4 linked regions of the Homo sapiens genome follow. The protein of the gene in region 2 purifies or fractionates together with the protein of the main gene of each other region. This does not show direct contact. Each region holds a gene or a part of one and is shown on either strand. Other genes may lie near its edges. The genes, in order: HTR2C, TEX2, SIGLECL1 and GDPD5.

Region 1 (8,357 bases), on a different chromosome or scaffold from region 2:
AAAAACACTTTTTCAGACAGCAATATTTACATTAGTTAAGACCAACAGAAAAATTAAAGAAGAAAATTTTCCTACATATGTAGCTTGTACCGTAGGAAAAGACTGTGCTGTTCTTTCTCACACACTGCTAATCCTTTCGCTAACCACACTGGAGGGATTTACTGGTAACTCTAAATTCTCAACTTGCATCTCTATACCGGGCTCATTGTCACTGGCTTTCTCGATCACCGGTTCATTGGTATGCCGATAAATGTTAACATTAAGCTCCCTCCCAGACAAAGCAGTGGCGGCAACTCTTGGAATCTGCCTGACAGGAGGCTTTTTCTCTACCTTATAATTGCAACGCAAATAGTTGGAGAATGCCCTTCGGTAAATTTTGTTGAACAGAGTATACACCAGAGGATTGATTCCTGAACAAACATAGCCAATCCAAACAAACACATTCAGAAGCTTTTCCATGAGCTTTTGGTTACAGGACTTCTCACAAAGAACAGACAGAATATTGGTAATGAAAAATGGGCACCACATGATCAGAAACACAAAGAAAACAATCCCAAGGACTTTCGAAGCTTTTCTTTCATTGTTGATAGCCTGCATGGTGCCCCTAGGACGTCTCTCCTTCTTCTTTCTTCGGCGTGCGTTCTGGTCTTGGTTAGGGTTTGCAGAGTTCTCTTCCTCGGCCGTATTCCTCTTGCAGCACTTCAGGAAATCCAGACTTAGTCCAGGCGGTTCCTCGGTGTGGCCGTGCAGTAACATCAAAGCTTGTCGGCGCAGAACGTAGATGGTCAGGCAATACGTAATCACCATAATCGTCAGCGGTATGAAGAAAGCTACGAAGGACCCAATAAGAACGAAATTTGGGTCGTTGAGCACGCACGTCGTGTTGTTCACGAACACCTTTTCTTCGTCCCTCAGTCCAATCACAGGGATAGGAACTGATACACCTAAAGGAAGAAAAAGGAAGGGGGTTGTTATAGCATCTTGAAGGACTGAACAGATGTATTCAACGGCATACATTAATTTGCATTTTACGGAAGGAAATTCAGACCTGATATTTGTTGAAAGCTATTCACGGCATAATCGATAGTCACATGAAACACTAGCAGTATGGCATCAGAAAATGATGGCGTTTTTCATGTTAGGAATGCCTTCTCCCTAAATTCTGTAGAAGGCATGGAATTACCCTTATTGATATTAACTATATTAGAGACACGGTTGTGTCAAAGGGTGGATTGTGTCAGATTTGTTGGATTTCCAGTTCCAAGAATCGTCCTGGCTCAGAGAAGGCACTCGATAAATATTTGTTGAATCAATGAATAAATTCACATCTGTACTTGATGACATTAATAAAGCCAATCATTCTTTCTTTAGCATATCATTTTCCAAATTCAATAAAAATGAGACAAATACCACCTGTAATAGTAATAATAGCCTATTAGGGATGGCTGGGCTGAGTCTAACTACTATGCAGAAATAGTCAATAAGCAGAGACTGAAAAGATTCTCTTTTTAGCAAGGGTTTTTGTTTGTTTGTTTTATTTTGAGTCTCTGGGCATGAGCAATGTTTCAAAGTCAAGAGAGGGTAAAATGTAGAGTTGGGAGATATGCAGTCCTCCAGTTTCTGTGTGGAATTTTGAGCATTTTTGTTTTAAGAATACTGAGAGGTAGTACTCTAGGGAAGCACTTCCTTCAATAAATAGGCCCATAGTTAGGAAATATCAATGAGGAGGTGGGAGCAGAAGGTGATCTTGTGCCTGAGCATAAGTAAGATATCTGGAAGCTTTCAGAAATAACCACAGTAGGTCTTCAAGAGGTCCTGCATCAATACATAGAGATAAATAGATAACAGATAGAGATTGCTGTCCTGTCTTGTGTCCACAGGAAGTCGAAGCCTGGGAAGTTCAGATTGTATTTGTGGGGTTCCATTAGAGATTATTAGGAATCCTGGGCTGGTAGGTGTCTACATCATGAACTGTGAGAGGAGACAGAAATGCATTCTCAGAGATCCTTGCTGACCTTAGAGAACACACAAGCAACTGTGACAAACCTGAAACAGAAAGTCCTTACTAGTTGCTTTAACATGCCTAGTCAGGTATAGAGTGTCTGGCTGGATGATCAAGAGGGAAAAAAAACAATGAGTCAATGCTTCTTTGCTAGAGCTTGCTGAGAATGTTGACGGATGTTTAATCTCTGGGAAGATAGAAAGAAGAGAGTGTTTTGAAAGTGATCTTTAAGTCTTCTTCCTCAGACATGGAATTTCTAAAATGACTGGCCTTTTCCTAGAGTAGGAAGCCAAGTAACAGGGTGAGGAAGCCACAACAGATATGACAAGACTTCCCTGGGTATTGGTCCATGCCTACCTATAGCTCTGAACCTAGGCACACCATTCAAGAAAGTAGGAAAGACTGAAAATGAGGAGGCACTGCAAACAGTAAGTCACCTCAAGTAGTGCATGGCCAGATCCTAAAGCAGAGACCTTTGCACCTAGATGGGGTGGAATGACAATTATTAGAAGGAGAAAAGAGAAAGTGATTTTTCACCAAGTTTGATGAAATGCCTGGGAAATTTCAACAGGAATTTGGGAATATAGAGTACAGCAGAACCACACAGAATATATTTCTTAAGAGTTAAAAAAAAAAAAAAGCAGTTAAGAAAGCTGCCAGACTGTGTTGTTTAAATCTTTATGTGAAAAATCATAAACGTAAGGTAATCTCTAGACAGCACAGATCAAACATGCCCTAAAGACATCAGTGTTGGCTTAACCTTAATAACATATTTTAGTGACGGATTAGTCTGCAGAAAGTTAATATAAGATTTTTAAAAGAAGAAAGAGTTTCTTTAAAAAAATTTACAAGAGAAAATGTTAGAGGGGGAACTTATATATTAAGAGATACTTAAAAGATCTATCAAGTAATTATAATATGTGGATCTTCTTGGGATCTTGATGAAAACAAAAACATGTTAAAAATTTTCATGACACAATTAAAAATCTGAACAATGACTGGCCTTTGGATGATATTAAATAATTATTGTTCATTAATTTTTAGGTGAGGTATTGATATTGTGGTTATATAAAAAGACAGCTCTTTTATTTTTTGATATACATACTAAAACACTTACAGATGAAGTATTATGATGTTTGGAGTTATTTCAAAATAATACGGGAGGGAGAAGTGGATGAAAGTATGGATGAAACAAGACAGTCCACAGGCTGATAAATCTTGGAGCTGGATGATGAGTTCATGGGCTTTATTTTATAATTCTACCTTTGTAATCTTTGAAAGTCAACTATGAAACAGAAAGTTTAATAATTTTTTTCAATTTAAAAAAAGAGAAAAGAAGACATAGAGGTCCTTTCTGAAACAGAGTAACATCACTGTTAAGCCTCAGATTTTAAAAAGTCTCCAAAACTGATTGGCCACTGCTAATCTTGGAAGTGATTCCTTCCAGAGCAAAAAAACATTTGGATCCCTAAATAGAAACATTCAACCACCTGTTTGATAAAACTGTAGGGAAGAAGGCCATTTTCTGACAATGTGTTGATAGGAAACTCTGTTATACCTTTCCAGGTTCCTTACAGCAAAAGCAATAAAGGATGCAGGAGTGGTGTTTCCCTCTTCAATCTCCTACCTTGCCAACCACCCAGCACCTTAGATACTACAGCGTGGGGCTAGAGACTCAATCTGGGGAATTTGCTTTCACCCTGGAGGCATCATGACTGAGGCATGTACCTTCAATTTCCCACAGGAAATGCTGCATATATTCTAAGTATTCATAGACACACTTGGACGTTTCTGGGGAAGGCCTCACACACAGGCCATGAGATTGGTGGAAGTTTGTATCACTTAGAGACCAACTCCAGAGTAATGTTAGCTCGCTTCTGTTAAATGATTTATTCACTTGTCTAAGGGATTCTTGAGCCTAAAGTAGGCCTTGTCAAGGGACAGCAAGAGAGGGTAGCAAAGTCACTGTAGATAAGCTGAAGCTGTTATTGGGTAGATGAGGCCAATTTTATCCCTGGCATCTATTTGTATTATTTTTTGTGCATTGAGGAAAGGGTGATTCTAATAGCTGCCATTTATTGAGTGTATCCTATGTGCCAGGCACTGAGCCATGTATATTACTGACATTACAGATGTAGAATGTATTATCTCAATTTGGTTAAAAACTTTATAAGACAGGTATTATTTGGCAAAGTAGCTTAACCAGTTTACCAAATCTGCACTGTCATTAATTTTCTTTTGTTTTTAGAAACCATGAATGCAATCAACAAAACAAGAAGAAATTCAAGTTATTTCAAACATATGAGGAAATTATAAAAAGCAACAACAAAAGCAGCATTAATAACAATATATGTTGTACACTGTCTTATTCAATACTTTAAAAAAAAATAAAAGGTAAGTGTCAGCAGTTCTCAAAGTGTGATTCAAGGACCCTAGGGGGGTGTCTGAGACTGTTAGAAAGCTTGCTAGGTTTTCCTTTCCTAACTGTCTTTAAAACTGCATTTTCTTCATAAATTTCAACCAAAACAACATATCACAACTGTTTGAATGTGGATACATATATGAGAATCTAGCTTTCTTTCTGTCAAACAAGATATTAAAAGAGATTTTCAAAACTGTGGGCCGGGTGCAGTGGCTCACGCCTGTAATCACAGTACTTTGGAAGGCCGAGGTGGGCAGGTCACCTGAAGTCAGGAGTTCAAGACCAGCCTGGCCAACATGGTGCAACCCAGTCTCTACTAAAAATACAAAAATTAGCCAGGGATGATGGCACATGCTTGTAATCCCAGGTACTCGGGAGGCTGAGGAAGGAGAATCGCTTGAACCCAGGAGGCAGAGGTTGCAGTGAGCCGAGATCCCGCCACTGCACTCCAGCCTGGGTGACAGAACAAAATTCCATCTAAAATAAATAAATAAATAAATAAATACAATAAATTTTCAAAACTGTAAAACAATGCCTGTTTTCTCTCTGATTTGTTTTGGAGATTATAGTTTTCAAAAATATGTTTTTATGTTAACCTTAGATGGGTTTATTATTATTATTGAAAATAAAATTATTCCTAAATATTTTAAATATTTCTCAGTTTTAATTTCTAATACCATAAATATCAATAAATATAAGCCGCATAAGCAAAAACTCTTTTGGAGTCCTCGATTATTTTGAAGAGTATAAAGGGGTCCTGACACCAAAGAGCTTGAGAACTGCTGTTCTATGTTAATGCATTAAGTTATTTAAGTGCTAGAGAGTTAAGTTCAGCAAATGTGTTAAGTTTGTCTTAGCATTTTTATTTCAACCAATAGTAATTCATGCGATATTATCATGTCTGGTAAATATAAATAACAGCAATACTGGCAACAAAACACTTTAAATTCATCATTCATTTTTATAAAAATTCCGCAAGGCACATGTTATTTGATGAAGTTAACTTCAGAAAAATTAAGTAAGTTTAGCAAATATCATGAGGCAATCTTCAATATTTTTGAAATTCCTGATTTGGCCAAAGAGGAAAACTAGATATGAACTACCATTGAAAATATCAGGTGTCACTAACAATAATTCCAATAATAATAACTACCTTTTACTGAGGGCTTATTTGTCATGCACTAAGCCACATATTTCACAATTGTTATATACTTTTATATATATTTTATTCAATCCAGACAAAAAAAAATAAATTATTAGGTGGAATCACTTAACCTTTCTGAGATTAACTTCAATAACTCTGTATCATCTTCCTTAGAATTTTAGAACCAACAAAGGTAAGTTATAATTCATGTTGTGCTGCAAACCTTAGGTACTTCTTCAACTAATAAACTGTCAAATATATTTCACATGCATTATCTAATTCAGTTGTTGCAAATCTCTGAAAAGTGGTTATTATTTATTAAGGTTACTTAAACTCTGAGAGGAAGAGTGCCTTCAGTAAACATATAAGAGTCTTACTTAGCATTTTAGAATATTAAATTCATTAACATTGTTAAGTTAAAGCTTTACTGAAAATATCATATGTTACTTCTACCACTATTTTATTCAAAATATAACGTTACCACTATTATAACTACTACTGCTATTATAACTACTACTGCTGTTACAACTACTACTACTATCATTCATTAAGTGTTTATTATGAGTGCTTACTGACTCTGATACTTTGTCTGCATTACATACTTTACATGCATTATCTCATTTCAGCCTCTTAAAAGCCCATTAGTTGATGAAGTTATTTTACTGCAAAAGAGGTAAGTTCAGAGGATGTATAAATATGTTTACATTATTTCTTAAAACCTTGAATTCAAGCAACACAGATCAGTTCTCTCCAAACCATAAGGTCATATGCCAATGATTCTAAGAGGCACATTTCTTTCAGATTTTAACATCTTTGAAATTGTGATGCTTCATACAACCCATAGTGTCTTACAATCATTGTTGGCCAGAAACTAGTCATTAGATAGTTGTCATTGTCAGTACATGTGTGAAACTGGTCTGAATAACTTCTTTTGACATCTTCTGGAAAGATCAAAACTACCAGCAGCAAAATTTGCAAAATGAGTGTCAGCTACATGACAACAATTCAGTGTAAGTGAAAAGTTATGTCATTACGAACAAAGGGAAGGAGTGTTCTGAAGAAGACATCCGCAACAGTTTCAAATGCCACAGAGAGATCTAGAATTTGAAACATTTTCTCTATCTTTGAAAATGAAGAGGTCATTGGTGATTATAGAGAGAACAATTATAGTGAAGACAGGAAACAGACTGCCAAGAGATGAATAATAAATAGTGATACAAAAGAGATTAGAGAATACGTTTCCTAGAACAGCTTGATAAACATCAAAATGAAAACATAGGGAAATTATTGTTAACCTGCAGGGTTATCTGTTTCCATGGGTTATTTTGCATGGAGAGGAAATTTTTTTTCAAGGATACCTAGAAAACCATACTATTTCAGGCTGACAGGAGTTCTTGAAGTCTGGTGATGCTGCAGTCATTGTCATTCATATGGCTCCTGGCAAACCCATGTGTGTTGACAGTATCTCAGACTATCCTCCTCTGAGTCATTTTGCTCTTTATGATATGAGATAGACATCATATCTTGATTATGTGTCATCAAAGCAAGGGACAAGAAGGCTGTTGGAGCTGGCAAGGTCACCAAGTTTGACCAGAAATCTCAGAAGTTTTAGATGAATATTATCCCTAATACCTGCCACCCCAGTTTTAATCAGTGGTGGAAGAATGGTCTCAGAACTGTTTGTTTCAATTAGCCTTTTAAGTTTAATAGTAAAACTGATTAATGATGACAATGCATTGTAAAACCTTCAGAAGAAAAAGAGAATGTTTTCTGGATCCCCTTTTTTTTGCATGTGGCAGTTTTAAGTTTTTAGTTTTTAAAATCAACACTTTTTAATGGAAACGCCCTGACCAAAAATCTGTTACAGAATTTTGAAACCCATTAAAATAAAGCTTAATGCAAGAAAAAGAAAGAAATATCCAAGGGTGTCATATCAGATACCATGGAGGACAGAAGATAAAATCATCTTTAAAAAGAATAAAGTAAAAACTACAGCAACAAACGCACATCTGTCAACCCAGAATTTTATGTTCAGTGATCATATACTTCATAAATGAAGGTAAAATTAAGACTTTTTCATGTCAACTAAAGCTGAGAGAATTTGTTGCCAACAGAACTTCATTAAAAGAATGCTAAGGGGACCAAGATGGTTGATTAGAAGCAGCTACAGTCCACGGCACTCACAGAGAGGAACAAAAGGCGTGAGTGAATACAGTATCTTCAACTGAAATATCCAGGTACTCACTTTGGGACTGATCAGGGAAACAACTCAACCGATGGAGAACAAAGAAAAGCCAGGCGGGGCAACGGCCCACCTGGGAGCAACACAGAGCCAAGGGAACCCTCACGTCCAGTCAAGGGAAGCGGTGAGTGCTTGTGCGACCGTGGGAAACCATGCTCCTCCCACGGATCTTTGCAACCCACAGATCAGGAGATCCCCTTGTGAACCTATGCCACCAGGGCCTTGGGTCCAACACAGAGCTGTGTGGAGTCACAGCAAAGCAGCTGCTCAGGCACACACAGAGACCCAGGAGCTTTACATACTCTGACCCCAGGATCCCCAACAAAGGTGTCTGCAACTCAGGCAAGGCGGGAGGTCCGTACATACCACTAGGAAGGGGGCTGAATCCGGGAAGTCAAGCAGCATTGTCCTGCGGGCCCCACTTCCATGGCATCTCACAAGATAAGACCCACTGGTTTGGAATTCCAGCCAGCCACCAGCAACAGGGTGGAGCCTGCCTGAGATAGCGCATTCCTATACAGAAACAACAGGCAAGCTGAGAGCCAAA
Region 2 (8,357 bases):
CACGAGGTTAGGAGATCGAGACCATCCTGGCTAATACAGTGAAACCCCCATCTCTACTAAAAATACAAAAAATTAGCTGGGTGTGGTGGCGGGTGCCTGTAGTCCCAGCTACTCGGGAGGCTGAGGCATGAGAATGGTGTGAACCTGGGGGACGGAGTTTGCAGTGAGCCGAGATGGCGCCATTGCACTCCAGCCTGGGCGACACAGCAAGACTCTGTCTTAAAAAAAAAAAAAAAAAAAAGAAAGAAAAAGGGAAAAATAAAAGGCATGATGTTCTTTCCCCTCAGTAGGTTCAAAGTACTTTTCTATTTGGTGATGACATTAAGCTTTTTCAGAAATTGGTTATCAGTTATGTTTAATCTCTAGTTTTTAAATAAGAGGATTTTTTTAAGGCAGTAACTCAAAATATACCACTGCAAAAAGAATGTAGGTCTTCTTCAAAAGGTGAATTTCATTAAAAGTAAATAGTTTGCTAATCCATAAAACCCCGACAGACAACTGTGCTTCAAATATCTGATAAAAGTTTGATGGAAATAGCTCATCCTAGGGCCTCAGCTATACTGCTATTACCTTTGGTGGCCAAATGCAGAAAGAAAAGCTGAGAGAGTAAGCTCTGGCTTAATGAACTCCCAGACTACACTAGAAGCTACCCAGGGGAGGGAGAGGCCAGATTCATCTTTGGACTCCCAGGGCAGGTGGTACCTGGCACACAGAAGGGTTTCCAGGAATGTTTGTTGAACTGAACAAACTGAGCAAGGTGAACAGCACACAAGAACAGGGGGCAGCCTCCCTGCCCACAGGCCGGGTGCTAAGAGTTGGGCAAGGCCAGGCCTTGCATAAGAGAAAACAAAGCCTGACAGTCCTGGCAGGCTTGCTGGGAAAAGACATCATCATTTTGCTCTGACCCAAATCTTTTGGGTTTCCTCTGAAGATGACTTAGTAATGTTCTGTGGATAAGTTTCAGGGCTTTGATACTGTACCTGAAGTTTTATTCCCATATTTGATCAAATGTAATACTCTTCCGGGATGAAGGTCACCATCAGATTTTCAAAAGAGGATCCTGACCCAGCTGAAGTTCAGAACCTCGGCTAAACCCAGAGCTTCTATACTTGGTGTGAAATACTAGATAACACTAGAGGTTTACCTGAAACTCTTGCTCCAGTTTCTTCTCTATCCAGTCTGTCACATGAACTAAAGTCACTTCTCTCTCTCCAAGTTTTGGCCGAGCTTTCAGCTCCACATGTGGTGGCTTTCGGAAACCATACCTTTTTGAAGACAAGTAATAACCACATTTAGAAGCAAAGCAAGGAATGAGACAGGCACTGACAGCAAACAGTTCTCATTTACATGGGGCTTTATCACTACTTAAAATGTTATTTTCTTCTGAAAATGCCCTCTAAAAATATTCCACACACAAAGTATGAATTGTGAACCCCCTGTGTTCCCTGGATGGTGTTAGGGCTGTGGCGGATTTAGAACAGTTCTGACAAACTGAGAGAGCCAGGAAGCACCACTGGAAAAGTCCATGACCTGGGCATTGGTTTCTGTTTTTTTCTAAAATGGCAATAACCTTTTTTCTTTCAATTTTTATAAAAGTAGTATATGTACATTACAAAAACAAAACATACATACAAGCAGATAAAGCAGAGAGTGAAAGACACACTGCCTCTCTCTGAATGTCATCCCCAAGAGAGGACTATTGACAGAAGTAGGGTGAACTCCCCTTACATTCTCCTGTGCATATGTCGATCAATAAGGTTTGAAACCTGTTTTTTCATCCTACACCCCAACAATACGCTTTGTATGACTTCCCGAGGGAGCAGACTGGCAATCAGAACTGTTGGCAAAGTATCCAGACAAGACCCTGTATGCTATCAACTATCTAAAACCTTAAATCTGTCCTGGACCAGTGCTTTTGGAAATACAGTAAAAATGTCAAGTTGCCATAAATATTTCTAAACACTCTATACTTATCTTTATGGATCAATAACACATAGTTCAGCATTTGAGCATGCCTTGGGTAGCACTATCCTAGAGCCCTTTTATTTTATCTCCCCCTGAGCAGAGGCATTTAAAACTGATAAATCTAAAGAATTGGCAGTAAGGAGAAGAAATGTATCAATTTTAACTATTAAAATTTTTTTAAGGTTTGAAAGACCATACAATATATTAACAGTGGTTATTTCTGGATGGTGAGATTATGGGTTTTTATTTATTTATCTATTTTTCACCTTTTCCCAATCTTTCTCTTTTTTTTAACAATGAAAATATTACTTTAAAAAAGTATAAAAAGGCATTTTAAAGTTTTATTGGGAAATACCAGCATTATCGTTAAATGGTTAGTCAATTCAAAACCCCTCTTCTGATCATTCCTACAAATCCTTCTGAATACCGATGGTATGTACTAGCATGTTGGTTTTACTCTATGATAGAACAGAGCTATATTTTTGTTATGAGTGTAGTTTATGGTACAATGAGATCTCTTATGCAATCACTATTTACACTTATGCCCATTTTTATAGGACTTAGCATGTCAATTTTAAATTGAGATTCACAGGCAGTGATGCTGAACTCATCAGTAATTTATTTCAGTGACTCTCAACCCTGGCTTCATCACCCCCGACCCCTGAAATCCGGGGGGATGGGCCAGGCATAGCTATATTTTTAGCAAGTCCCCAGGTGATTTTAACATGCAGCTGGGGCTGAGAATCCAGTCCTCAGACACCAAATGCACATGCTCCTGACTCCTCAGCATTGAGGCCTAACTCAGGGAAGTCTCCCTAACTTCCCAGACTCTGTTGGATGTGTGATCCCCATCTTTAAAGTAGGGATAACAATGGCATCTACCTCAACAGGATGCTATGAGGACTAATCAGGTAATGCAATTACAACCAGGGCCAGGCAGAGAATAAAGGCGCTATCTACAAATGACAGCTGTTATTACTGGCAGAACAGTTGGCTTTACAGAGGAGGAAGACCAATAATAGAAACAGCTTATCTCATAAACTTCATGTATTGACTTTAACTTTTCCTACCATGTGAACATGAATTCTTGAATGTGAATTCACCACTCACAGAAGAAAGTACCATCAGATTTGCAACTAATATTAAGGTCCCATGAAAATTGTTTGGAAGTGCTTCTGCCCGGGAGAAGGTACTTTCCATAACCTCAAGGTTAAGCAGGCTGGGATTTCTGTGGCCATGCAATAGGAGGAATCACTTATTGTCCCTGAGGGCCCTCTACGCACCATACTCGGTCAGTCGGGGGTGGTGGAATGTTGACCGCCAAGGTTCCTCTACATTCTTGTACTTCAACAGTGAGCAGCAGGGGTGTGTTGGAGACTTCTTCGATCTTCTTTTTAATAAACTCTGTCTCTGTTGCTTTTTGGAAATATTTTGACTTGGTAATTTTATCAACAAACCTCATAATCTTACTTGTTCGATGACCTCCAACGTACCTTCAAATGTGGAACACAAAGGGCGGTTAGCACAAACTTTGCTCTTTTCACAGACAAAAACCTGTGGCTCTTCGTTCCCCTTACTTTAGAGCACCACTCGATGTTTTGGATGTGGTGATTCTGTGTTGGGGCGGGGGGCATCCTGTGCATTGCAGGGTGTTCAGCAGCATCCCTGGTCTCTACCTACCAGATGCCAATAGCACTCCCCCTAGTTATGACAATAAAAAATGTTGCCAGACATCGGCAAATGTCCTCTGGGGGGCCAAATCACCCCCAGTTGAGAACTACTACTTCAGAGAAGGTGTAAATGTCTGAAACAGTCCAAACCTTGACAATGGAGAGCTGGACAAAGTCCTCATGCAGAGGTTTCTCACCTGTCCTCCTTTATACTACTCCAATACCAGACAGAAATCCAATGACATATCAATCTCATAATCTCCATGCAGCAAGTAACAAATCATGCTGCATCAATAGGACATAAATCAGTAATTAATGGACTGTCTTTAGGTGGTGTCACATGGCTACCTTGAGTGGCAATTACTTTTCAAAGGGCTTGGAACTTCTTAAAGAAAAATGTAGCCTGGGCAACACAGTGAGACCCCCATCTCTACAAAAAACAAACAGAAAATTAGCCAGGAGTGGTGGTGTGCATCTGTAGTCCCAGCTACTCGGGAGGCTAAAATGGGAGGATCACTTGAGCCCAGGAGGTTGAGGCTGCATTGAGCTATGATCGTGCCACTGCACTCCAGGCCTGGGTGACAGAGCAAGATGCTGTCTCAAGAAAACAAACAAACAAACAAAATGCTACACCAAGTTGACGTGCTCACAGGCCAAGAAAATAAGCTGTTGTATCAGGTCACATGTACCATGAGACTCAGAAGAAAGGATATTTGCTTTTTAAAATCCCCCACAGTTCCAGAACATGAGGAAAAGTATGTGTTCAGGGAAAAGCAATCATTCTTAAGAGGGTCAAGCAGCTAGACTGTAAATAATACACACAAACTTTGGCACCAACTCCTCAAACATCTGAATTCTCATCTCCTGTAGGATTTCAAAAGTGAATAGGTTGGTTTTTTCTTATAAAAGTTTCTGAATTATTTGGCTTCTTTTAGTTTCTTCAATTCACTTTATGTAATTAAAAGATCATTGTGGATAGGCTATTTAAGCACTTTGATCATTTCACAGCCCAAGTTAACAGGGAAAGAGTAACCCCCTCCAAATGAAGTTCATGATCCAAAAGATCAGCTCAGTCATCAGCGCTTTCAAAACTCGCCAAAGAAAATCATCTGAATGTTTCTGCTTTGCAGGAACTTGCAGCTCAACAGAAGCAAATGCACTCCAGCTGAAGCTGAGGGGAGGGAGGCTCTCCGGGGGGAGGGGGTGTATGCTCGGTTCCTTCTGAAGGCTCAGGGAGATGCTTTTCATCATCAGCACACCCTTCAACTTCTCTATTATTTAATCAAACAGCAGCAGAAAGCCATTTTAGTAAGGAAAGCTATATGGGTCTTTTTGCTTGGTTGCCTGGAATTTAAACAGACCACTGACCTGGGATATTAATAAAAAAACCATCTACTCAACATTAAAGAGGAAGGAAGATCACAGAGGAAGGAAGGGAAACAAGGTTCACTCCCAACTTGCTGTCCTGATCCCTGGAGACTCAGAGGCACAGAAGCACTGATCCACTCACCCTTCAGCCCCTGGGAGGAGCTGTTTGTCTCCCCCGCTGGGCTCTGGGGCATCGTCTTCCTCGGAGGAGCCAGCGCTGGAGGATTCCTCATCGCTGTCCGCCAGACAGAATGCCCGGGGCCTGCAACTGGACAGAGAGAGAGTCACCACCACTGCCTGCCCTCACCCAAGCTCTGCTTAGAAAGAGAACACACACACCCATGCACACACACTCAACCACAACAGGGTCGGGATGTAACTGTTAACTACATCTCGTCATTCTCTCCAACCCACCCAAACCAGAAGAGGCCCAATCCAAGAATCCTTGGATCAGCGCAGATGCTCAGGACACTCTTCAGCACCAAGGCCTCTGACAGGACCACAGAGGCCTTGGACCCAGAAGAGGTTGCTTTTGAGCATGCGTCAGAAGGACAGGAGGTGGGAGTGTGATGCGCACATAAAATGCAGTGATTTCAACCAGCAGTGCAGCGGAGCCACACGGGAGGATGAACAGAAAGAGCGGATGGTTGCAAGAGTGAGGTGACAGCTTATACTGGTGACATGGCCACTTCTCACTGATGATGGGATGTTGAGGCAAGTCCCTTGGCTCTGGCTTAATTCAGCAACTCTGATGCTTTCTGGCTTAGTAACCCTCCAAGTGAGTTTTGACTCATGACTCCTTTCCAGTGAAATTACGTATTTCACTCCACACCTGCCCTATCTCCTGAGGGTCACAGAAAAAGCCAACAACCACATACACACACACACACAAAAAGTCTCAGGAGACTCTAGGAAGCAACTGACATGAGAACCCAGGAAATTTTCCGGAAAAATACATGTCTAAAGACCATTCCTTTGACTGAAGTAAGGGAAAGCCTCATGGGACAGCAGTGTCCCTCACTCAGCTCTCCAGGGCAGATACTCAGTTCCAGAGGTGTGGGGTTGCTGGATTACCCGCAGAGGTGAGGGGTCCAGTTCCCGTCGGAGGGGACCTGGGGGCTTCTGGGCTGAGCCTCGGGCCTATAGAAAGCAGCTTCCTCCCTGGACCGTGGCTTTGCTTCAGAAAGTACTGGCAGGGCTGTGTCTGAGCCCAGAGACTTAAATGGGACAAAATGAACAAGGGACAGAGTAGTCTCTGAACACTATTACACAACCAAATGGTCACCAAGCAGAGGCTGGTCATTGTATTTTTGACAAGGACACAGTTACATGGACAAGGGAAGGCAGTGGGGCTCAGGGCCTATCTCCCTGCAGCTGCAGTCCTTTGGTTTTCCTGATGCTGTCCTTGGGCCACCAGAGGCCCACGGGGACAGTTATCGCCTGACCAACAGGAGCCAAAGGCACCCAAGGGCACAGCACACATGCCAGTGTGGAACTGAAGGCCCGGCAGTGGCCCCAGCCCTGTGCACTGGGAGGGTAGGACTGAAACCTCTACACTGGAAACAGGAGCCGGCTGTAAGAGGACCCGGACTGTGTCCTCCCTGGCAGGACACACAGCTCCTCCCTACCCCCACTCTGAAACATTAGAGCCAGTGCTCCAGCCAACAGGCTGGACTTCCACATTAAAGGGAAACTCCCTCTGCAGAAACAAAAGCCTCTTGTCCCTGGCCATGGGACAGCACGTAACTGAGTCTTCCTCCTTCCACCAGAGGCCTGGCTGGTCCAGGAAATGCTTATGTGTATCCACTGGCTGCAGAGCCATATCAGAGTGTGCTGTGGTTAGGCAGCCCTCACAGGAATCTTATATTTAAAATGTATATAGCAAAATTCAATTCCTATGAAAGCCTAAACCGGGTCTTGGGTGAGGAAAGTCAGAGATGTAAATCCCCAAAGATCACACGCCCCTCTCAGAAGAGCATCAGAGTTCTCCATCAGTAGGATGGCAGTGCCTGAGGCTCTCTGACCTCATGCTGCCAGGTGTGAAATCTGTCCCCACAGCACAGGGAGCCTGCTCCTCACCCACAAAGCACAAAAGGCTGCCTGCAAGCTCTGGGACCCCAGTGAGATCTGCTGAGCCACTGCTCCTTGTGTCCCCACTGGGCCATATCATCTGGCAGCTCCAACCCTGGGCAGAAGATGCCAGAGGCTGAGCGCTGTGGCAAGCTCTCAGGTTACTGAGTTAATCCTCTGCAGGTCACAGAACAGGACAAATTTTGTGGCTTGAAGTGAACACTTTAGGTAATGCTGTACCAGTTCAAGCTGATCAGATGATGTGAAAATCTGATTTTGACCGAGTGGTACCTCTGCTCTCCGCGCTGGGGGCAGTATTATGCGGCACCCAATACTTAGGAATTATAAGTGTAGCCCAGTGTTTGCCTGATATTCATTTTTATAAATGAACATGCATTTTATGACCTCAGCATGAACTTCAGAGGAAGATACACCACACTTACTTGTAGAAGACGTGCTGGAATGTAATTAGCCTACTTGTTTTAAACACACCTCAGAATTCCAGATGAGTGTGGTATCCTTTCAAAGAGACACCTTAAAAGGCTTATTCCAGTTATGTTCCTTCTGCCAAAAATCTTTTGGAAATGTCAGATATATAAGAAAAAGTGAATTATTTTATCACTGACACTCTTAGACCAAATATTTTATTTCTTGGTCTCATAATGACCACCACCTCTGATGACTTCTAGCAATTTCTCAAAGGTCCAAACCATCTACAAAGCAGGACAATTTGCTGTCACTCAGGATAGCTAAAAGAATGTCACGGACTGTGGAGGCAATTCTAAAAAGAAGCCCCCAAAATGCTTTAAATGAAGACGCATAATTAAATTAAGAAGCCCTGTGAGATGTTTGCTTTGAGGGAGACCACACTCAAGAATGCACTAATTTTTCTTTTGAGAAAATCAGTTCTATACACCTGCCACAGGCACACATGTGCATACACACCCACAAACTAGACTGAGTCACAGTGTAAACTGCAGGCACTCAGTGCCCAGAACACCAGGGGCCTGGGGGCAGATGGGTAGTTTGGGGTAGATGTGAACTAGTAACCCAAAAGAGGTCAGATGGGGCCACCTTCTGACTTGGGGACTTGTACAAAGGGCCCAGACTGCAGTGGTGGAGCAGGAAGAGGCCAAGTGCCTTATAGGAAACACTTCACTTCCATGCCACTTTCCATTTAAAGGCCACCCAAAAGGCAGAGCGCTCCCTTTAACTAACTCATTCTGGCCCTCTGCAGGGCAGTTCCTAAAGCAGAGGCTGCTCAGGTTACTATCTCAATCCCAT
Region 3 (8,357 bases), on a different chromosome or scaffold from region 2:
CAAAGTGTTGACATTCTCTCAGGAAAAATATGATAATGTTTAGTTTGGTGAGAAGTGTAAAACAACATCTCCCTACCACAGTATAATTGTTTTGCCATAAAATTTGAAATGAATGGTGTAAGTAACATTGTATAGCATGGCACAATGTTCCCTTTTATATCCCATGTAGACATTTATTTAATAAATTTGTTCTCAGTAAATTTCTATTAAAAAAGAGACAGCACGAGACCCTGTCTCAAAAAAATGATCAATTCCAATTCCTACTGGATATCATGACTTAAAAATCCATAGTAATTCCAGCGTGGGCAACATGGTAAAACCCCGTTTCTACAAAAAATACAAAAATTATCTGGGTGTGGTGGTACGCACCTGTAGTCCCAGCTACTTGAAAGGTTAAGGTGGGAGGATCACCTGAGGTAGGGAGGTCAAGGCTGCAGTCAGCCGTGATCACGCCACTGCACTGTAGCTTTGGGCTACAGAGTAAGACTTTATCTCAAAATAAATAAGTAAATAAATAAAATACATACATACATACATAGTAATTCATAGAGTATGGTATTGACACAAGGATAAATAAAAATACCAATGGGACAGGCTATATGGTTAGAAAAATACCTATACATATGTGATCACTTGGTTTAGGATAAATATGGCACTGCATAGAAGTTAAAGGACTCTCTTTTGAATAAATTGTGTCAGAATAACTGGACAGCCATACAGCAAAAGGAAATAAGACCCCTACCTCATGTCATACATAAAAATAACTTCTAGGGACATTGGGAAAGTCCTTAGACTTTTTTTCTAGAACAGTGCTGTGTGAAGAAATATAATGTGACCTATAAATGTGGACTACATGTATAATTTTAAATTTTCTAGCAGCCACATTAAAAAGGAAGAAATGGGTAAAATTAATTTTAATGATGTTTCATTTAACCTAGTGAAAGAAACCTAGGTTATTCACTAGGTTATTCATATTGAACCTAACCCAATATTTCAACATGCAATCAACACAAAATTGTTAAGATTTGGTACATTCTTTATACACTCTTCAAAATCTTGTATATATTTTACACTTACAGCACACTTCAATTCAGACTAGCCATAATATAAGGGCTCAATAGCCATATGTAGTTAGTAGCTACCACATTGGTCAGTGGAATTCTTTAATACAACATAGGAGAGTATCTTGGTAAGTTTTAGGTAAGGAAATATTTCTTTAAAAGGGCCAAAAAGCACTAGCTATGAGGAAATATGGATAAAATGGACTGTATCAGAATTAATTTCTGCATCAAAAGATACCATTAAGGAGGACAAATGCAAGTTGCAGGGCTGGAGAACATACTTGCAACACATACAACGTGCTTGCATCCAGAACATAGCAAGGATAAAGGGGGTAATGAATGGTGTAGTACATGAGTGGAGTGTTTGGGGTGTTGTTAATGTTCTATTTCTTGACCTCAGTGGTGGTTACACTGGTCTGCTCCCTTTGTGATAATTTGAGTTGTATACTTACTATCTGTATTAATACTTCTCTGTATAAAATTGTACTTTGATTTAAAAGCTTGTTTGAAAATAAAGACAGAGAAACAAACAGAAGGGATACAAAAGAGAATAGAACGGTTGGGACAAGTAGAAATCATGTACCTAGATGTTAGATTTAAACTCCAATACATCAGTGATTTAACTAAATATAAATGGCTTAAATTATCCAGTTATGAATCTAAGATCATCATATTGGAAAAAAGAAGCAAAGCCAAACTCCATGCTGTTTACAAAAGACACAACCAAAGCATAAGTGTAAAGGACAGTTAAAAAACCAAATGGGCCGGGAGCGGTGGCTCATGCCTGTAATCCCAGCACTTTGGGAGGCCGAGACGGGCGGATCACGAGGTCAGGAGATCCAGACCATCCTGGCTAACACGGTGAAACCCCGTCTCTACTAAAAATACAAAAAATTAGCTGGGTGTGGTGGCGGGCCCCTGTAATCCCAGCTACTCAGGAGGCCGAGGCAGGAGAATGGCATGAACCTGGGAGGCAGAGCTTGCAGTGAGCCGAGATCATGCCACTGCACTCCAGCCTGGGCGACAGAGCAAGACTCCGTCTCAAAAAAAGAAAAAAAGAAAAAACCAAAGAATGAAAACATACACCAAGCAAATACCAACCAGAAAGCCAGGTAATGTAGACATACCTACATTAACATCCCATAAAGCAGACTTTAAGCAAAAGGCATTACCAAAGATAGAATGGCATATCTCCTAATGATAAGCTGACATTAACAGGAATAAAGTATATATTTAAAATTTGTGTTTGCCTACTAACATAGTCCAAAAATATATAAAGCAAAAAATCTACAAAAATAAAAGGAGAAACAGACATCCACAATAGTAGTGTGACATTTTAATCACTGTTCTCTCAGAAACTGACAGAACAAACAGACTATTGGAATATATAAAGATTTCAACAACTTGATCAGCAAATTTGACCAAAAATATATAGAGAATACTGCAATCAATAACTGCAGAATACAATTTCTTTGTAAGCACACAGAGAACGTTTACAGAAATTGGCCACAGCTGGATCATAAGACAAATCTTAATAAAATTTCCATGAAAATATTTAAAATCTCATTAATAACCAGCAAAATGCCTGTTAAAACCATCAGATACCAGTACATATCCAAGACAATATATCAAGTCTTGGTGAGAATGTGGTACTCAACTTTCACACACTATTGGTGGAAATATAAATCAGGGCAACAAAGTTATTTATCAAAGCAGAAGATACACATACTCTATGACCCTCAATTCCACTCCCAGATGTATACTTTATAGAAATGTTTGTGCATATGTACGCCACAAAGGAATGCAAAAATGTTTACAGTGGTATTATTTAAAAATAGCTAAAAAGGTAAACAATCCAAATGCCAGTAAACAGAGAATTTTAAAAAATGAGATACTACACAGCAACAAAAACCTATGAGCTAATGCTAGATGCAACAACATGGACCATTCTTACAAATAAAATATTGAATGAACAAAGCCAGACACAAATAAGTAATAATGTATGAGCATTTCTTTAAAATTTGAAAAAAACCGGGCAAAATCAAGTGTTTAAGAACGCACACACAAGTAGTAAAAATCCTTTAAAAGTTGCCAAGAAATGTCCAGCATAAAAGGTAGGATATTAATTGCCTTTTTGGGAGGAAGAGGTCTGTTTCTCTGTTTATTTTATCATTTGTAGGGGGTATGAACAGGTCTTTTGAGATACTGGCTATAGTGAATTCCATAAGGCTGTACCCTATATAGGCATCCTTTTAATAGTACAGTTTCCCATTGCCCATCTGCCTGACCATATGGCCAGGCCATTGGCCACTGCCCATGAATTGGTAAAAACCCAAATGTGGAGGCAGTTCAGCCCACTGAAGTGACTTGTTTTTGCCTTCCTCAGTATGAGTGCCAGTCTTCCAAACAGGATGTTATTAATTCACTTTGGAATTGCCATCCATAAATCAAACCGCTCTTAGTTGGTCAATCAAGAGCTATTAATAGACATCATTCAAGTAATAATAGGATCTCGCAGCTCTTCAGTAGGGAAAAAGCCACCTGTTCATAAATATAACGAGGACCTCCTTGCATTTCCCTGGTAGCATGTTCCTGTATAAACAATTTCCATTTTATTACGAGACTCTTTTGGGCATGGCCTTCCTTACTACAGTGTTTTTCCAACATGACAAACACATCATGAGGATTTCAGGTGTCAGGATTATTATATCCTTCAATGATGGGGCAGACTCAAAGCCCAATAGGCAGCTAGTTGTCTCTCCATTGGAAATTTTCTGGCCCCAAATCCCAGCATTCACCACTGGGTGGTGCTCACTGGCCTTAGCTCCAGTCTGCCTAAATAAAGCAAACGTTAAGCTTCTAACATGTTTTGTCCACCAGATATCCTGTACTGTTTCAAATTAACAATTAGTGTGGGCTTGGGCAATCTTATTGGTTCCTATTTAGCATATTCAATCAATATTGGTTGAAGGGAAGATTTACATGCCTTCTGTTTCATAATAGTACGTAGGGGAACTCTTCCATAGTTGGACACAATATCTTTCCTCATAATACATTTAGGTAAATACATTCACATAACATATTTACATAGTCTGTCCAAACATTCCAATTTTCATCCAAAGTTTCGCCTGAATCTCATCCACTTTGTAATCCTATGTCTTCGCAATCTAACCATAGATGCTATTAGAATTTCACCAACCTTTTGGAATGCAGGTATAAGACTCCCACATGAGTCCCAGAAATATCTCTTATCCATCCCCTGACTATTTTACTACTAATATGCATATGACTTTGGGTCTTCAGTTAGGGGTCAGGCCAAGCAACCCAGGCCCTTTTGTCATTTATCTTGATTAGATCACATGTTCGTCCCCTCAGGAGATCTGAGGTCAGATTTCCCATTGTCATGTTTGCCTTCTGGCTTCTAAAATTCCTCCAAACTAGGGTAAATATAGCAGACTTGATGGGGGACCTTCAACACTGGAGGGCAAGTCTAGGTTCTCACTGCTCCACCTAATTTCTAAGAGTGCTCCACTGAGACCTTTGTTTAGACTCCCTCAATGTCCACTTAACTCATCTCATTTCTTAATAACTGTTTATAAAGATTTCCACCCTCTTGGAAATGTTCGTCTTTTCTCACTCTCTGGTGAACCACTCTAATTTTCTTTGCCATCTGTCATTTCAGCCTAACTTTTCCCTTTAGCCACAGCCCTGAGGCTAGCAGCTGTAGCTCAGGCTGGCCAGAGCCCAAGATTGGGCCAGCATCAGGATCCGCCTCAGCCACTTTCATTTTAACGATTACAGATAAAAATAGCCAAGGGACTGCCTATTTAGTTTGTTTCCTTATGCATCCAGTGGGTCAGCTCCTTGGGGGTTGGATCCATTGTATTGAAAAAGCAATGGTAACTTTTACCTCCTGTAACTGTTTGCAGAACAGCTGCATTTCTATACGCACAGGTGACCGCAGGACAGCCCAGGAATCAAAGGCTTATCATCTTGACTTCACATCCTTCCTCTTTTCAAACCATATGTTTCAGTGAGTCAGGGCTGTTCTAGTGAATCCCATTTCTGATACAACTGAAAAGTTAGGGAATGGTCCACAAGATCCCCTCATTTCTGACACCAACTGAAGATATCAAGGATCCCTGATTACCCTCATTTCTCAAATCATTTGCAAGGTTTTGGAACCCCAAAACTACCCTTAGGTTTGGTAATTCACTAGAAGTACTCACAGAATTCACTGAAAGCTGTTATACTCGTGATTACTGTTTACTACAACTAAAGGATAGAGATTAAAATCAGCCAAGGGAAGACATACAGGGCAGAGGCCAGAAGTTCCCCACACAAAGCTTCTAGTTATCCTCTCCCTGTGGAGTCATGGACAGCATAACTTAGCTTTCCTGGTGATAATGTGTGACAATATGCATAGTACTGTCAACTAAAGAAGCTCACCCAAGCCTTGTGTCCAGTGTTTTTATTGGGCCTCCATCGTGTAACATGGTGACTTCCCTCATGGTGGATCTTAGCATCCAGCTCCTCCTGAAGTTGAGCTGATACCATTTGATCCAAAGCCCCTATTCTAAATCACATTGTTAGACTATCTGGTATTGCTTCCACTCTAAATCACATTGTTAACATTATCTGGTGTGGCCAGCCCTCATCCTAAATCACATTTCTAGAATATTCAGTGTGATGCAAGGTCCCTGGGCAAACAAAGACACCCCTATGAGGTGTGACATTCTAAGAGCTAGGGAGTGTCTTCCAGAAGCCAAGGGCAAAGGCCAGACTTCTCTTCAGGCAAGGTTAAGTTCCTTAGTACACAGAATAAAATGTCAAATTCAGAATAGCAGCGATCTCTATGTTTGAGAGTGGGAGATGTGTTTGGGGAAGGGAGTATACCAGGGGTAGTGTTTTCTTTCTTTTCTTTTCTTTTTTTTTTTTTTGAGACAGTTTCTTGCTCTGTCACCCAGACTGGATGGAGTGCAACGGAGCATTCACAGTTCACTGCAGGCTTGACCTCCCAGGCTCAAGCAATCTTCCCACCTCAGCCTCCCAAGTAGCTGGGACTACAAGCATGTGCCACCATGCCTGACTAATTTTTTAATTTATGTAGAGATGGGATCTTGTTATGTTGCCCAGGCTGGTCTTGAACTCCTAGGCTCAAGCCGTCCTCCCACCTGGGCTTCCTAAAGTGCTAGGATTACAGGTGTGAGCTACCGTGCCCAGCCAGTGTTTTCAATATTAAGCTGGTGGTGGGTATATGCTCATTATACCATATTTATATCTTTCTATATGTCTGAAATATTTCACAATCTTTAAATGAAAACTGGATCATTTGTCATTTATATAAAAGCTTTATATATATAATATGTAAATATGTATCTACATATTCATATATAATACACTCAAAACTATACATACATGAATGAGTAAAACAAAGATCTAGAATGATGTATAATTTGATACCAGTGCTTACCTATGGTTAGAGCAGTGATCAGAGATGAGATTATAGAATTTTCAGTTTTTTAATTCCAGGTTTATTGAGGTATAACTGACAAATAAAAATTGTATATACTTAAGGTGTACGACATGACGTTTTGATGTATGTATGCACTGTGGAATGATTACCACAATCCAGTGAATTAACATAATCAGCACTTCACAGTTACCATTTTTTTGGTGGTGAGAACACTTAATATTTACTGTCACAAAATTTCAAGTATACAGTACAGTGTTATTTACCATAGTCACCATGGTGCACATGAAACCTCCAGAACTTATTCATTCTGCCTAGCTGAAACTTTGTGCCCCTTGATCAATATCTCATTTCCCTTAGCCCTCAGCCCTGGCAACCACCATTCTATACTTTGCTTCCATGCGTTTGACTTTCTTAGATTCTACATATAAGTGAGATCATGCAGTACTTGTCTTTCTGTGTCTGACTTGTTTCACATAGCATAATGTCTTTCAGGTTTATTTACGTTGCTGCAAATGGCAAGATGTCCTTTTTTAAGGCTGAATAACTTCCACTGTGTGTGTATGTGTGTGTGCACAATAAATCCTCACTTAACATCATCATTCAGTTCTTGGAAACTGCTGCTTTAAGTGAAATGATGTAAAATGAAACCAATTTTACCATATATAAGAACATGCAAACTCCACACAGATACTGGTACTGGCTGGGAATTGATTTTTTTCTCTTATGATTAGACAATGTTGAACAAAATGACATTATTTGAATGGGGTGTGTGTGTGTGTGTGCGTGCATGTGTGTATACATATATAATATTTTCTTTACTCATCTATTAATGGACACTTACGTTGATTCCACGTGTGGGCTATGGTGAATAATGCTGCAATGAACACAGGAGTGCAGATATCTCTTCAAGATACTGAGTTCATTTCTGTCAAATACATGCCTAGAAGTGGGATTCCTGAATCATATGGTAGTTCTATTTTTAATTTTTAAAGGATACTCTATACTATTTTCCATAGTGGTTATACCAATTTACATTTCCACCAACAGTGTACAAGGTTTACTTTTCCCCACATCCTCATCAACACTTGCTATCTTTTGCCTTCTTGATATACCCATCTAATAGGTATAAGGTGATATCTGTGGTTTGAATTTGCATTTCTCTGATGATTAGTGATGTCAGGCATTTTTTTTATATACTTGTTGGCCATTTTGGTATGTCTTCTTTTATGAAATGCCTATTCAGGTCCTTGCCCATTTTTTAATTGGGTTATTTGATTTTTTTGCTATTGAGTTGTTTGAGTTCCTTATGTATTTTGGATATTAGCCCCTTATTAGATGGATGCTTTGCAAATATTTTCTCCCATTCTGTAGGTTGTCTCTTCACTCTGTTGATTGTTTCCTTTGCTGTTCAGAAACTACTTTGCTGCAATCTTGCATGTCAATTTTTGCTTTTGTTTCCTGTGTTTTTGCAGAAATATCCAAATAACTATTTCCCAAACCAATAATTTTTATTGTGTATTACATATAAATATACAGAAGTTTTCTCCGATGTTTTCTTTTAGTAGTTTTACAATCTCAGTTCTTATATTTAAGTCTTTTTTTTTTTTTTTCTTGAGACAGGGTCCCCACTCTGTTGCCCAGGCTGGAGTGCAGTGGCATGATCTTGGCTCACTGCAACCTCCATCTCCTGGGTGCAAGCGATTCTTGTGCCTCAGCCTCCTGAGTAGCTGGGATTACAGGCGTGCTCCACCATGCCTGGCTAACTTTTGTATTTTTAGTAGAGACAGGGTTTCACCATGTTGGCCAGACTGGTCTCAAAC
Region 4 (4,962 bases), on a different chromosome or scaffold from region 2:
TGGGGAGACCCCTTGAGAGGGAGGGAAGGAAAGCAGGGGGGTGGGGCCAGGTGGTAGGGGGCTTTGCCCAGAGCTGGTCTGCACAGGTTCCCAAGGCAAGGGGGTTAGAGTGACTTGGAGTGGGGCCAACTGCTGCTCTGTCCTGGCAGTCCTAATGCGGAGGGAGGTCAGAGCATGAATCCCTCTGATGGCTGAGACAGGTGCAAGGTGGGGGTAAAATTACTCAAGAGTGGGCTGGGAGGTGGAGCATGCACAGGGCATGAAGGGACCAGGCACTAAGTGGAAAGGACTCAGGTTTCTGTGCCCAGCCCAGGCCACTGTCTTCACTATTGTCATTCCTCTGAACTAGCCCCAGTCCCTGGCCTCTGAACTTAGACCTTTCCTGGGATCTAGGCAGAAGGATCACTGGACTCTCACCCCTGTCCCCACCAGGAGGAGGGGGTGATCAACTTGGGAACAAGAACCCAACTGCCTCAGGGACTGAACCCTGCTTGGGGGATGGAGAGAGCCAAGACTCCACAAGAAACCAACTGTGAGTTACTAGATGGGGTCAGCGCAGCAGAAGTGGACAGACAGATGGACAGGCGGATGGATGGATGAACAGAGCAGGCAGACAAGGGGAAAGCAGGAGGCGGGGGGTGGCACGGACACCCTGGCGAGGCTGGCTGCCCTATGAATCATTGAGGGCAGTGAGCAAATCTCTCTCTGTTCATCGCTGTGCCCCAGTACCATCAGTGCCTGCCGTGTCCCGGGAGCCTGACCTGTACTTGTTGAGTGAATGAATGGAAGAATAAGGCCCACAGGGAAAGAGTATCCTCCCCCGGCCTTGTCCCCCAGGGTACCTTCCTCCACCAGGCCTCTCCTGATCCCCAGGAGACAATGACACTGCCCTGGCTGTGTCTGAGCAGACCCAGCGTGTCTGTGCCAGCCACTGAATCACCATGGGGTGGCCTCCCCAGCACCCTGGGGCTCCATGTGAGAAGGCCCAACTCCTGCTGCAGACAGCATCAGCAACCAGTGTATGTGGATGTTGGTCAACTGGGCGGACACAGGAATGACTCAAGGAATGTCCCATAGCCAGGGACAGCATCTCCTCCTAGAAGCTGATTGGTGAAGCTGCCTGACCCAGGAGGGGCTAAGGCACTAGACGGAGGGAGACGTGGGTCCCTAAGCTCTAGGTCCCATCCTGGAAATTCATGTTGAAACCCAGAAGGACAGTGTCAGGCCAGGGTCTCTCGGCCAGGCATATCCAGAACAGGAAGCTCAGCCACTGTGGGGTCCTCTGAGGGGAATGAGGAAAAGGCTGTGTGTTGCGGGGAGCAAAGCAGGGATGGGTGTTAGAGATAGAATGTAAAGAAGAGAGAGAAAGAGATGGGAGAGGCAGAGAAAGGTAAACAGGAAGAGTGAACAGTGGGAGAGGCAGAGCCAGGGAGGGAGAAGATGGGAAGAGAGAGGCAGAAACTTGGTAGGGTCTGCCCTGGGCAAGTGGTGAAGGCCCCTGTAAGTGCCAGAGGCAGGGGGATGGGGGTACCCAGGCAGGGTCCCCTCCCCCAGGGAGACACTTTGGTGCAGAGAGGGGCCAGGTCAGGAAGCTGTCAAGGAAACGCTGGTCCCCACCTGCAGAAACGGCCGTGGGAACAGGGAGCAGAGGGACACACACGGCAGTGGGACGGGAGGAGCAGAAAAGAGGATTGCGGGGGTAAGGGAGGCTTCAGGCGAGCGCGCTGTCTGCGAGGTGGCCCGGGCACAGGGCTTGGTGCACGGTGGGTTTTTAGACAGAACTGGAGAAGGGATGGCAAGAGGGAGAAAGAGGAACAGAAGGAGGAGGAAGACCACACCAGAATTACCTGATCAAGTGATAGCTGTGAGATGCCAGAGTGCAGCAGAGAGAGGGGGAGGGGGAGAGAGGAGGGACATGCGCCGATCAGAGCAGGATGGGACAGAGAGAGAACATCAGTCAAGAATAAAATCCCAGCCCCTTGGTTCCTGGCTGGGTGGGGGCCCCAGGCTGGCCCTAGACCCTCCCTGGGACCAACCACACCTCCCCACTGCGAGCACACCCCAGCTATCTTGCTGAGGGCTGGTGGGAACCCATGCCCTGGCTAACAGATGAGCAGGCCAGCCCGGTGAGGAGCTGAAATTCACCTAAGCCCACATAGCCACCCAAGGCAGAGCTTGGCTCTGGGATCCCAGCTGCATGTTCATTCCAGAAGTCACCCAGCCTCTGTCTGAGGGAGGATGGGGCCACCGGAGTCCGTCCTTCTTCCCTGGTCAGGCCTGCTCCTGGCTGAGGCCCAGGGCTCAGGAGAGGGTTCACCTGGCTGGGGTGGGGGCTGGGCCTGCTGCAGGGTAGGGACAGCCACGGAAGTGGTCAGATCCTACTCACTTCTGGAGCACGAAGATGCCCACGATGAGGGTGAAGGAGACCAGGTCGGCAGTGACCCACATGAGACAGTACTCGTCCGGGGGCTGTGGACAGACGGCCCGAGGCCAACTTCCAGTCATGGCCAGTCCAGACTGAGGCTCCAGACTGAGGGTCCGTGGACCAAAGGACCCCACATGGCCACTGGGGAAGGGCAAGGGAGGACCCTGAGAGGGTCTGGGGGCTGAAGATGACATTTTGCAGGTGTAGGCTCCAGGCGCTGTGGGCCTGGGGGCCGGGGCGTGTGTGTGCACACGTGTGCACTCTCAGGGTAGGAGGGGACTGTATGGTGCTCAGGGCAGAGGGGTTGTGTGCTAGGCCTGCAGGGTCTGTGTGTCTAGGGTCCTCAAAGCAGGAGCCAGATACTGAAAGACAATGGCTTTGCCGCCCCCCGCTGCCGACTCTCATCCATCGGTCTCGACCCTTTCCCCAGGCTGCCTTCCCTTCACCCTCCTCTCCCATAGAACCATCCACAGCTTAGGTCTGATTCATTGGCACTGCATTCTCTCAGCCATAAGGATACCCTCCACCTGCCTTCTGCATGCTCAGGGTGACAGTGGAGCCACCACCTATCTGCAGGTGCCCAGTCAACCAGCTAAAATATTGCTTTATTTGCTGTTCTCTGAGCAGATTTTAATTGTTTCCTATTCTTTTTTATTTTTATTTTTTGAGACAGGATCTCACTTTGTCATCCAGGCTGGAGTGATCACAGCTCACTGCAGCTTTGACCTGCTGGGCTCAAGCAATCCTCCCACTTCAGCCTACCGAGTAGCTAGGACTACAGGCGTGTGCCACCTTGGCCAGCAAATTAATTAATTATTATTATTTTTTTTTGTAGAGACAGGGTTGCCCAGGTTAGTCTTGTACCCCTGGGCTCCAGTGATCATCCTGCCTCTGCTTCCCAAAATGCTGGGATTATAGGCGTGAGCCCCACGCCCGGTCAATGCTTCCTATTCCTGTCCTTGTTACCCTCCAAAGCAAAGAAACCCAAGCAGCTCTTTACTTCTTTAGAGCCCTTAGTGATGCTTTTCTCCCTGTGGATGAGGCCCAGGGTCCTCCCAGCACCTTAGTGCAGATCCCAGATGCCATGAAACCCTCATGCCTCAAGCCTGCACGCCCACCATGGACTCCCCACCATGCTAGAGACCTCCCAGGGACAGCTCCAAGCACAGAGCTTGCCGAGTGGTCAGGGCAGGCTATAGGCAGCTCCAGCACTGCCCCCCAGGGGCCCTCTGCCCCCCAACTCACCATGATCCAGAGGGGGGAAGGCACCTGGGACAGGGCGTGGGAGTTGTCAGAGGTGACGGATGGGACCCCCGCACACCACAGCAGGGAGAAGAGCCACGGTGCGTTGACTGTGTAGAGGTTCACACTCAGGTTCCAGGACGCGTAGTCCCTGTGGGGCAGGGGAGAGGCAGGTCAGCATGCGGACCCTGGCAGCTCCAGGCCCAGTGTCGGGGCTGGTAAAGCACGTCCTGTTCACGACCTCACAGCCATGCCCGGGGCAAGGAACATTGGCTCCAGAGGGCCAAGCTCCGGGACAAGCCCGGGTCTGCCCGACACGCTCACCCTCTTGTCTTTGAACCATGTGTGCCTGATTCCTCTGTGTGCCCATCCCTCTGCCCGACCGTGTGTGTGTGTGTGTGTGTGTGTGTTGGGGGGTGGTGGTGGCAGGACTGGGAGAGACTCAGTCCCACCCTCTCCTGGAGGAGCCCAGGGCAGGGCAGGCACCTGAGCTCCTGGCGGGACACCTGAGTGTAGCGCAGGTTCAGCCGCTGGATGTGGCCTCTCCGCAGGCTGGCGACTGCCTCCTTGGAGCCTGATGTCTGTTGGAAGCCGGGAGCCACCTTCCGCACCAGGGGCCTCTGCCTGCTAGGCAGCCACATGACCTGCAGGCAGAAGAGAGGCAGCCTCAGACTTCTCTTCTGCACGATGCGTAAGAGTACCTACTCCTCCTAGAGCACCTGTGGGGTTAAGAGACAGGACCTGGCAGGCGGTGAAAGCTTAGATGAAGTCATTAGCAGGGCAGGACTCAGTCCCAGCCAAGGCTGCAAAGTGCACTGGCAGCAACTCAGGAAACTTCGCTTCTGGCCTGCTGTCAGTACGGGAGGGAAAACCCAAACAGCCACTACTCTGCACATGGCCACTAGCACCTAGTGTGCCGTCCTAAACTGATGTCAGATTTCTCTGGTCCCAGATTATTACACCAAACGACAGGGCAACACTTCACTGAAATAACTTGACCGCCTGGACCTTTATACATTTTAAAGTGTTTTCTTGTTCCCCTCTTGTCCCATGATGACCCTGCCAGGGAAGTGAGCAGTGTGTGATCCCCATTTTACAAATGGGAAAGCTGAAGTCCGGAGTGCAACAGGGAAAGGCTATGCAGCAGCAGGGCTCTAGCCAGGCCAGGGCTCCCGGGGGCAGAGCTGCGTTGCAGGGCCTCACCTGGTGCTGGGGGAAGCCGGAGTGCAGCACGGCCTCCAGAGTCACGTTGATAAAACTGCTGCGGTAGGGGTGCTCCCGGGGCGGGTCACGCA

Evidence for each region.
Region 1: the proteins of TEX2 (region 2) and HTR2C purify together in Homo sapiens (co-immunoprecipitation; one large-scale study listed by IntAct). This does not show direct contact.
Region 3: the proteins of TEX2 (region 2) and SIGLECL1 purify together in Homo sapiens (co-immunoprecipitation; one large-scale study listed by IntAct). This does not show direct contact.
Region 4: the proteins of TEX2 (region 2) and GDPD5 purify together in Homo sapiens (co-immunoprecipitation; one large-scale study listed by IntAct). This does not show direct contact.

What each region holds. Positions count from the first base shown.
Region 1 is NC_000023.11:114,899,176-114,907,532, reverse strand, and holds part of HTR2C (5-hydroxytryptamine receptor 2C isoform a precursor), read right to left. Parts: intron 945-8,357; coding exon 118-944; 3' UTR 1-117. UniProt on the Homo sapiens protein: G-protein coupled receptor for 5-hydroxytryptamine (serotonin).
Region 2 is NC_000017.11:64,149,697-64,158,053, forward strand, and holds part of TEX2 (testis-expressed protein 2), read right to left. Parts: intron 5,272-8,357; coding exon 5,146-5,271; intron 3,459-5,145; coding exon 3,249-3,458; intron 1,266-3,248; coding exon 1,145-1,265; intron 1-1,144. UniProt on the Homo sapiens protein: During endoplasmic reticulum (ER) stress or when cellular ceramide levels increase, may induce contacts between the ER and medial-Golgi complex to facilitate non-vesicular transport of ceramides from the ER to the Golgi complex where they are converted to complex sphingolipids, preventing toxic ceramide accumulation.
Region 3 is NC_000019.10:51,255,054-51,263,410, reverse strand, and holds part of SIGLECL1 (SIGLEC family-like protein 1), read right to left. Parts: intron 7,483-8,357; exon of another isoform or gene 7,379-7,482; intron 5,670-7,378; exon of another isoform or gene 5,511-5,669; intron 1-5,510.
Region 4 is NC_000011.10:75,437,493-75,442,454, forward strand, and holds part of GDPD5 (glycerophosphodiester phosphodiesterase domain-containing protein 5), read right to left. Parts: coding exon 4,871-4,962; intron 4,312-4,870; coding exon 4,154-4,311; intron 3,819-4,153; coding exon 3,671-3,818; intron 2,470-3,670; coding exon 2,387-2,469; intron 1-2,386. UniProt on the Homo sapiens protein: Glycerophosphodiester phosphodiesterase that promotes neurite formation and drives spinal motor neuron differentiation.